Linked DNA regions of Homo sapiens: region 2 is linked to region 1. A link means that fine-mapping ties the variant in region 1 to the plasma level of a protein whose gene starts in the linked region. Region 1 holds a variant in brackets. A gene starts in the other region. All regions are shown on their forward strands.

Evidence for each region. PIP is the posterior inclusion probability: the model's chance that the variant is causal. The UK Biobank Pharma Proteomics Project read protein levels with antibody pairs (Olink). The fine-mapping took linkage between variants from a reference panel, not from the people measured, so its PIPs are less certain.
Region 2: it holds the start of WIF1, and the variant in region 1 is fine-mapped to the plasma level of the WIF1 protein (UK Biobank, PIP 0.98).

What each region holds. Positions count from the first base shown.
Region 1 is chr9:18,626,286-18,631,672 of GRCh38, forward strand. All of the region lies in intron 5 of ADAMTSL1 (ADAMTS like 1), which reads left to right. Among named protein-coding and RNA genes, the nearest start is that of MIR3152, 56 kb to the left of the region's middle. The variant G/A (reference allele first, on the strand shown) is at 3,000.
Region 2 is chr12:65,121,141-65,126,505 of GRCh38, forward strand. It overlaps WIF1 (Wnt inhibitory factor 1), which reads right to left and starts at 165. Exons shown (of 10, transcript NM_007191.5): 1 at 1-165. The coding sequence starts at 51. RefSeq lists a silencer at 326-485.

The sequences.
Region 1 (5,387 bases):
GTATAGGCTGCCAGCCACAGGTGATGCAGGGGAGCTGCAATTTTCAGTAAATTAATAAAGAAAGGACTCACTGATAACATGGCATTTAAACAAGGATCTAAGGGAAGTGAAAAGGGGTCACCATGCAGAAGTCAGGGAGAAGAAAATTCTAGGAAAAGAGAAAAGCAAGTGCAGACGTCCTGTGGTATTTGCATTCGGGATATATTTCATGAAGAACAAAGAAGCCAGTGTGACTAAAATGAGGTGAGTTTCAAAAAGGCTAGAGAAAATGATATGAGGCTGGGGGAAGAATGGCACAGATATTGTGGGGTTTTTTGTAAGTCTGAATGAAATGGGAAGTTGTTGGAGGATTTTGAACAGAGGAATAACTTGATCAGATTTCTGCTATACTGAGAATAGACTGTAGTTGGAAAGATATTACACTAAGCCAGGCCACAGATGACAATGGCTTGGACTGTACCAGTAGCTGTGGAAATGATGAGAAGTGATCCAATCATAGATATACTGCACCTGTATTTATTTTCTTTCTTTCTTTCTTTCTTTCTTACTTTCTTTTTCTTTCTTTCTTTCTTTCTTTCTTTCTGTCTTTCTTCCTTCCTTCCTTCCTTCCTTCCTTTCTTTCTTTTCTTTTTTTCTTTTTCTTTCTTTCTTTCCTTTCTTTCTTTCTTTTCTTTTCTTTTTCTTTCTTTCTTCTTTTTTTCTTTTATTGAAACAGGGTCTCACTCTGTCACTGAGGCTTCAGTGCAGTGGCACTATCACAGCTCAGCTCATTGCAGCCTTGACCTCCTGGACTCAGGTGATCCTCCCACTTCAGCCTCCCCAAGTAGCTGGGATTACAGGTGCACACCATCATGCCTGAGTAATTTTTGTATTTTTAGTAGAGATGGGGTTTTGCCATGTTGGCCAGGCTGGTCTCAAATTCCTGGCCTCAAGTGATCTGCCCACCTCAACCTCCCAAAGTGTTGGGATTACAGGTGTGAGCCACGGCACCTGGCCACCATTTTAAATTTTAGCCATTCTTATCAGTGAGTAGTGGTATTTCATACTTGTTTTTATTTGCATTTTCCTAATGGCTAATAATGTTAACATCTTTTCATGTTGTATTATCTTGCAATTGCTGCTGTAACTAATTACCACAGACTAAGTGATTTAAAGCAACACAAATTTATTATTTTATGGTTCTGGGGGCGTCAGAAAACTGAAATAGGTTTCACTGGGCTAAAAACAAGGTGTTTGCAGAACACAGCTCTGGAAGCATTGAGGGAGTATTTCTCTTTCTTCAATTTTGATTTTCCTGCTCCTGGAGCCTATGCACATTCTTTGGCATCTTCAAAGTCAGTAGCTTAGCATCTTCAGATCTCTCTCTGACTCAAGCTTCCTCTTCTGCCTGCCTCTTCCATATTAAAGAATGTTTGTGATTACATTGAGTCCACTCAGATCATCCAGGATAATCACTTAATTTTAAGGTGACCTGATTAGCAATCTTAATTCCATTAGCAACCTTAATTCCCCCTTGCCACATAATATTACACATTCACAGATTTAAGGACATATTTGGCAGGGGAGAGGGATACATTAGTCTACTTACCACAGTGTGCTTTGTTCATCTTTTGCATAGTGTCAGTTCAAGTCTGTTGCTCATTTTTAAAAAATGTGTTGCTTGACTTTCTCTTGTTGAGTTTTGGGAGTTCTTTATATATACTAGGTACAAGTCCTTTGTGGGATATTTGAATTGGAAATATTTTCTCCATCATAGCTTTTTTATTCAAAATTGCTTAATGTTATCTTTCACAGAGCAAAAGCTTTTCATTTGGATGAAGACCACGCTATCATTTTTTTTCTTTTACGGCTCATGCTTTTAATGTCATGTCTAAGAACTTCTTGCCTAAGACCAGGACACAAAGATTTTCTCCGTGTTTTCTTGCAGAAATACATTTCACCTTTAGATCAGTGACCTATTTTCAGTTATTTTTTGTATAAGGTGTAAGTTTGATAGGTAGCTTGAATTTTTTTTCGTATAGACGCCCAATTCTTCCAGTACCATTTGTTGAAAAAGACAGCCTTTTCTCTTTTGAATTGTCTTTAAACCTTGTCAAAAATCTATTGCCGTTTCTCTGAGGGTCTGTTTCTGGACTCTATTCTGCTATGTGTCTGTCCCTTCATCAATACTCCATTTTTTTTATTACCGTGGCTTTAAGGTAAATCTTAAAATGTGGTAGTGTGATTTCTCCAACTTTGTTCTTGTTTTCAAATTCATTTTGGCTATTCTATTCTGGGTCTTTGTCTTTCCATATAAATTTTACTATCTGCTTGTCCATATCTACAAAAAGTCTTGCTGGGATTTTTTTGTGTTAATTCTACAGATTGATTTGGAGGGGGTAGGAATTGACATCTTTAGCATGTTAAGTCACTCAATCTATAAGGTATGAGAATTTTATGTCTCTGTTTACTTAGGTCTTATTTTATCTCTTTGATTAGCCTTTATTAGCTTTCAGCATGAAGATCGCATATACTTTATATGATTTACATCTGTTGTATTTTTTGTAACTATTGCAAATGGCATTATATTCTCTTTTTTAAAATTAGAGATGAGGTTTCACTATGTTGCCCAGACTGAAGTGCAGTGGCTATTCACAGATGTAATCATAGCACACTACAGACCCACATTCCTTAGCTCAAGTGATCTACCTGCCTCAGCCTCCCAAGTAGCTGGGACTACAGGAGTTACTGCGCTTGGCTTGGCATTGTATTCTTTATTTCCATGTCCAATTATATATTCCTAGTTCACAGAAACATGATTGATTTTTGTGTGTTAGCCGTGTATTATGTAAACTTGATACACTCACTCAATACCTCTGAGTTTTTTGGTAGATGACTGGGATTTTCTCAATAAACAATCATGTTGTTTACAAGTAAGAGTGGTTTTGCCTCTTTTCAATTTGTAAGCCACTTTTTTTTTTGTAGTCTTATTGTACTGGCTACGCATGCAATACAATAGT[G/A]AATAGGAATGATGACAATGGAGGTCCTTATCTTATTCCTAATCTTAAGAGGAAAGCATTCAGTTTCTCACCATTGAGTATGATGTTAGCTGTAGGTTTTTATAAATGCCCTTTATCAGATTGAGGAAGTTCCCTTCCTTTCCTGGTTTGCTGAGAGTTAATAACATGAAGGGATGATGAATTTTATTAAATTCTCTTTTACCTCAACTGACAAAGTCCTGTGGTTTTTCTTCTTTAGATTGTTATTGTGATGAATTACATTAATTGGTTTTTAAATAACCAACTCTGCATTTCTGGGATAAAGTGTACTTGGTCATGGTGTATTATTCTTTATATAGATTTCTAGTTTGATTCGGCAGTATTTTGTTGAGGCTTTTTATCTGTGTTCATGAGAGATACTGGTCTGTCGTATTCTTTTTTGTATTGTCTTTGTTTGGTGTTAGTATTAGCACAAAATGGCCTCAAACGATGAGTAGAGAAGTAATTGCTTGTCTTCTTTTTTTCTGGAAGAGATTGTATGGAATTGAATATATTTATTCTTTAAATGGCTGCTACCATGCCCCAGTGAAATTTTCTGGATCTGGAGATTTATTTTTCAGTATGTAACCTTATGAACTTATGGAACACCATTATAGTAACTATTTTAATATCCATTCTGTGTTTGGATTGATTGATTTTTCACTTTAATATGTGCTGTTTTTTTTGTTTGTTTGTTTCTTTGCGTGCCTCATTATTTTTTGACTTGATGCCAGACATTACAAATTTTACTTTCTTGGGTACTAGATATTTTTGTATTTCTATAAATATCCTTGAGCTGTGTTCTGGGAGCAGTTAAGTTACTGAAATCAGTTTGAACCTTTGGGGTCTTAAAATGTGGTAGACAGGACCAAAGCCATGTTTGGTCTAGAGCTAATTGTACCCTTTTACTGAGGCGGGACCTTTCTGAGTAGACTACTTAATGTTCCATGACTTACAAAGTTTGTCACTTTGGCTGATGGGATAAGATACTATTCTCAGCCCTGTATGAGCACCGTGTACTCTTCTCTATAATTCTTTTGTGTAGTTCTTTCCCCAGGCCGGGTAATTTCCTCACACTTATGTATTGATTAGTATGCTGCTGGCTACTTTAAGGAAACCCTCTTGGGTGTCCAGAGTTGTCCTTCTGTATAGCTCTCTCCTTTCTGTTACTTTGTCCCAGAAATTCTAACTGTTTTTGTCTCCTTGGACTCTTGGCTTTGTCTACTCAATTCAGGGAATCTACTGAGCTCTACAGGTCTTCATACTTCCAAAGCTGTAGCCTAGGAACTCTATCAAGGCAGTAAGCTGGGGCAATGTTGGGCCTTATCTGATGTGTTTCCTGAGTATACAGAATTGCTGCCCTTTTTTGCCTGATGTCCAATATCTTAAAAACCATGGTTTCATCTGACTTTTTGATTGTTTTAGACAGAATATTAAATCTGGTTCCTGTTAGTTCATCTTTGTCAGAAGCAGAAGTCTTGGTGCTGGGCTTTCAATTCAGCTCTGCAATTACATAGAGCTAGCCAACTTTTGACTCCTTCTACGACAATGCAGTTAAGCACCTGTAATTCTGATTCCTCATCTCCCTACAACCTCCACAGCCATTTGGTTCCTAGAGGTTGAATGTGTTCCAATATTGTCTTATAATTTTCTCCCAAGCGGCTGACACTCATTTTGTGAGTTTGATACTGGCTGTTTTGATGTTAGCACCTGTGTAGGCAACGGTATCTATGTCAGGATTATCGCCTGAGTGAGAGGGAATATAAGATACTACTGATTGTGAGATGTATTCTGATTTCATATATGTTAAAGCATGAAAAGTTGTCCCTCTTGGAATCAATGAAATAGGGTATTTTGACAACAGAACTTTTTAACTGATTACATATAAAGATGAAGTAGAGGATGGCTCCAAGTTTTCTGGCCTAGGCAAATGGAAGGATGAAGTTCTCCAGATGGGAATGAGGAGGGCATCTTGTTTGGCCTGTCCAGTATATATCTTCTATTGTGCAATTACAGATAAACCAGGGAGAAAATTGAAAGCCTCAGATGCTCAACTTCTTATTTTGTTGGATATATTTTAAGAGTAATAAAACCGTCACGAAGATGTAAAACATACCATTTAAACCTCCTCAAGATTGGCAGACTATTTTTATACATAGTCAATTGTATTTTAAAATGACTCTCTCATTTTTAAAAATAAAATAAAATAAAGTGTCAGCTCCATAGGCATAGAGGGAAGAGTCTTTAAAAACATGAACTCATCAACGGATCTAAAAATAAGATAAACTCAGATATCAGAATAGGAAATTCTGTCTTTCAAAATATTATCCTCATCACCTTTCTCTGACACAGCTGTGAATCACGCAGAAC
Region 2 (5,365 bases), not on the chromosome of region 1:
GATGCTCCAGAGCCAGAGCGCGGCGGCAGGGAAGGCGCTCCTCCGGGCCATGCTGCTCAGGACCTCCTCGCTGCCGGGAAAACTCCTCGTGCCGCACCTACGCAACCTGGCGCCGTCAGATACTCTGCTGCGCTGCAGCTCCCTCAGCCAGGGCTGTTCCCGTTTAGACGGCTGGGCGCGTCGCCTCCCGGCCTGGGTGCCAAGGAGCCTGCGAGAGCAGGAGGAGGGGGCAGGCAGGACGCGGGAGGAGGAGGGGGGGACCAGCGGGCGCGAGTCGCGCAAGAAGATGGGGCGCGGGCGGGAGTGGGGGCGGCAGAGACGTAAGACTGGCAAAGCTGGCGAGGCCAGCAGTCAGCGGGGCAAATAGAGCGAGAACAGAAGAGCGGGAAGGGCTGGCGCGAGCGAGGTGCGAGCGAGGAGTGGGGCCCGCGAGGCCTGGGCGGCCGCCACTTGGGGGCGCTGTGGGGCCCCCCCGGGGGCGGGGCCGCGAGGGACCCCCGAGGCTGCATTCACAGTGCGGTGCGCCCAGTGGAGCGCCCGCGAAGTGGGCGTGTAGGGCTGGCGGACCCGGAGAAGGGCACTCAGAGACCCCTGGGACATCACTCGCCACCTCCTCGGGCCAAGGGAGGCTTCGGGGGAGGGAAATGGGGAGAGCAGACAACGCTGGGCTTGACTGAGTGCTGATGATGGTGATGGTGATGGTGATGATGATGATGATGATGATGATGAGGTGATGACTCCTGTTCCTCCTCCGGCGCTCACTGAAGGCGCAAATTGCCCTTCGTCTCCCTTTCAGCCAGTAGGATTCCTCTCTCCGCCAACCCTATGCGCTCCGTTCTGCGATAGGCTGGCACTTTGCGCGCTCCCAAGCAGTTAAAACTCGAGGCTCGACTGTCCGATGGTGCCGATGGCAGGCGCTGGCCTTGGCTCGAGGCGCAGGGCGTCCAGCTGGTACTTGCCCGACACCCAGCATTTGGGGATTCCCGTCTGTCTCCCTGATAACCCGGCAGTGCCCGGAAGAGTGCCCTGGGCCCTGGACGATAGCTGTACCTGACCCTCCGGGGTAGGGCTCCTCTAACATCGTGGATATCTTCACGTTTGCTGATATTTTTTAAAAGTTGCTGAATTCGGCCGGGCGCGATGGCTCACGCCTGTAATCCCTGCACTTTGGGAGGCCAAGGCGGGCGGATCACCTGAGGTCAGGAGTTCGAGACCAGCTTGGCCAGCGTGGTGAAACCCCGTCTCTACTAAAAATGCAAAAATTAGCTGGGCATGGTGGCGGGGGCCTGTAGTCCTAGCTACCCGGGAGGCTGAGGCAGGAGAATCACTTGAACCGGGAGGCGGAGGTTGCATTAAGCCAAGATCGTGGCACTGCACTCCAGCCTGGGCGATAGAGCGAGACTCCGTCTCAAAAAATATATAAATAAATAAATAAAATAATTTTTTAAAAGTTGCCGAATTCACAGGTGCGTGGGGGCAAAACCAAGGCTCTGGCCTCGTCTGTGAGAAGCATGCTTGGCCGGCAGTGGGCTGCAGCATAACCTATCCACCTGGCCCAGCAGAAAGAACTGATTTTTGCCTCCTGCCTAATTCCTCGGATGCACAAAGAAAACGGAAGCAAAAGGGTTTTGTTTTGTTTTGTTTTTAATTAAAAAACTTAGCCTTCGGACTCATAAAAGGTTCATTTACTTGTGTTTGTTCTTTAGTACCCGAAGCTGTGACAAATGCCTCAAGGATCAAATGTCTGGGGCTGGGCGTGGTGTTTCAATCAGTCCTTTATAGAGTAGCAGATGCCTCAAGAGGGAAAAACAAACAGAAACAACAGAAGAGATGGTGGACATGTGCAGGCATCAAGTTAAATCAGTGTTAGGTTCTGAGAATATAGATTTCCAATGAGGAAATATTTGCAGCTATACAACCAACCAATAGAAAAAAAAAAAAGGAAAAAAGGAATTAGACAAGAAGTCTATGACTGATTTGAACTTGCAGTGTCTTAATTTTTAAAGTACTTTTATTTTAAGTGCTTACTTAATCCTCACAACTCTTAAGTAGGTACTACTATTATTCTTATTTTACTGACGAGGAAAGAGGGCTCAAAAAGTCCAGTAAGTTGACTGTGGATATCCAGCTGGTAAATGAGAGTAAGGGTTCAAATCCCAGACACTCTGATTTCAAAGCCCATTCTCTTAGTAACTTATACCTCATACTGATAAATAAATCATAATTAAGTCTATTTGCATCCAAAGCTTCACAGTGATTCTTCCTTTACAATAAAAATATTTACCTGTTTCCCAACATTGCATTATTTTTTATTTCTATGAATATTCATGTATATAATGTATGAACATTAGGCTACTTTTAAAACACTTTAATGTTATAATGCCAGTGTCACCCAGGTAAAGATAATAATTTCACAGCACAATAGGCATTTTCTTTAACTCGGAGCGAGTGGTTTTAACATTTTTTTCTAGTTCTGCGCAAACCTCTATGGCTCTTGGTGCAAGGACGCCCTCTACAGGTTTTCCTAATCAAATACTAATTGAGAAATATTCATAAAATTTATTTTTTGGTGCAAGAAAAAGAGGAACTAAATTCTCTCCTAACTCGGTTTCCTCTGAGTGAGGTTCTTCTGCAGCAGTTGAATTTGGTGTTGATAACAATGGTAATCTATCTTGCTATAAGGACGTTTTTTTTCTTCCAGAATGGTTGTTTTCTGTTTACTTCTCTCCAGCACAGGACACTTAGAAAAATTATATTTTATTAGAGATAGATAAAGAGAAATGCTATTTAAAAAATTTTTGATATAAACTCGTTTGGTTATTAAAGGGGACAAAGGAACACATGTTTTGTTATACAACAGTGATTTTTAAGGGTAGCAGCGTGGTTCTTTTTGTAGGGAGGTCTATCTCTAAGAGATGAATCAGGCTTGACTCTCCTTTCTGTTGTTAAGGAGCAGTTATGTAGCTATTTCATTAAGAATTGATTTAAGTTTTTAAATTTCTTTAAACAAACATGTGACAATATTTACTAGCATATGATAAAAATTTGGAAATAATGTGCTAGGCAAGTCAACTTCATTTCGTTTGAAAATTCTGCCATTTATTTTCCAGTTCATTATGCTTCCTTTCCTTGTGCGATTCCCTCTCATCAATTATGTGTGCAGGCAGCTTCATTTATTTGTTCATTAACTCATTTGCTTATTCAACAAAGATTTATTAAACAGCTATTATATGTAAGACACTGACCTGGAAATTATAGTACAAATAAAACATGATCATAGCCTTCAAAGAGCAATAGAGCTACTAAAATAAGTAAGACAAGTACCTAAACAACCATAATACAAGGCAGAATGTGGTGATTGTTGATAAGGCAGAATGACTGGAAATTCATAGAAGAAATCTTGTATCTAGAATTCTGCACATTTGTTTGTTCATTCATTCATTCAAAATATATTTACCCGGTGTCTGATGTTTGCCGTATATAAGCACAGGGGATAGAAAGGTAAGTAAAAAGACAGCCCTGCTGTCAAAGAACTCTCAGTCTAACAAGGGAGTGTGTTGAGAATAAACAATAGAGAGGAATGAACGCCATGGTGGGAAAATGCACAGGGTATTTTGGGACTCAAGGAAAATCCTTCGAGGCAGACTGGGTTCTGGGAAGACTTTCTAGAGTAGAGCATACTTGAGCAGTCTTGAAGGTCAAAGGGGAATTGAGCATGCAAGGGGGAAAGATAAGGAACATCCATGCATAGACAGTGGCAATAGTGAGAGCAAGAGACATGAGAAAGAATGGCACCATGCAGGATCTGCAGGTGCTGACCTGTAGTATGATGAGCCTGGAATGGGAGAGGGAGGGAGCAGCTGGGGATGAAGCCCAAAATGTAGGTAGGACCTGGTTATGGAAGATTGTGCTGAGAACAATTCCAAATAATTTGTTTAGAGACGCTGTCCTCAAAGAGGCGAGGCGTAACTCCCCACTCCTGAAGTGTGGGATGTGCAGAGTGACTTCCTTTTATAGCGTGCAGTGTGGAAAGTGGGGAAAGTAACAAACCTGACAAACACTACTTCAACTAGGTGATCAAGATCATCAACAGTGATGAGTCATGTGATAGTATGTGCCCTTGATATGATGTGATGAGAATGGTACTTTACCTATGTGATCTTGCTCCTGAAAACCCATAACCCCAGTCTAGTCACAAGAAAAATATCAGAAAAACCCAACTGAAGGACATTCTACAAAATTCCTGATCAGTATGCCTCAAAACTGTCAGTGATCAAACAAAAAAGGGAAGTCTGAGAAACTCGTAGCCAAGAGGAACCTAAAGACACATGACTACCAAATGTAATGTGCTATCCTGGACAGCATCCAGGAATAGAAAAAAGACATTAGGTAAAGCTAAGGAAATGTAAGTCAACTACTAATAACACTGTATCAATATTGGCTCATTAATTGTGACAAATGTACCATTCTAATATAGGATGTTAATAACAGGGAAAATTGGGTGTGGGGGTATATGGAAACTCTCTGTACTATCTTTGCCATTTTTGCTGTAAATCTAAAACTGTTCTAAAATATAAAGCTTATTTTAAAAATTAAAGATCAAGACTTGAATATGTTTAAAAAATCTTAGCTGCTGACATTTGAAAAGCAGATTTTTTAATTAAAAATTTGATTTCTGGCTGCTCTTGAAAATGTAGAGATCTGACAATATTCCCTTCTTAGAAAGAATCAGATGGTGTGAGTAGTGACTGCCCTTCAAAGAGGACTAGCGTGCCCAGTCGTTACAGTTGCACTACTCTTCCATCCAGCATGCTTTGCTCTTTTACTTGACCATCTAGGCTTCTGTAGGCTCCTGAGTTTGCCATGCATATCCTGGAGGAGACCCGGAGGGACAGGGAAGAAGAAGGTATCTGAGGGGGCTGAAGCCAGTGCTCATCTTGGAAGTGCAGTTGTGTGGGAACCAGGGCAACACAGCTCTAGAGGTAGGTCTTGTCAGTGTCCAGCCATTCATTCACCCAGGCAAGTTGCCAGAACTATCTTGGTGACTGCAGGCATTGGGACTGAGACTGGTGCATATCAGCTGCACCCTAAGCTGTGTCTTGGAGAAGGAAGGAAAAGATACCCCTGTACTACACTGCTGTGGAGAGGGAGACATGAGATAGTAAATGAAAAGGGCAAGTTGGCGAGGATTATGCTTAAAAAACAAACTCTCTTCTTATACTACCATATATAATAGCTATATATAACTATGGATAGACTATAACTGTCTACCTTTTCTATAACGTCTGAAAGTTTATATAACAAAATATTTCTAGTGGTTACCTATGGGAAGTAGGAACACAGATAGGGAATGATTTTCCATTTA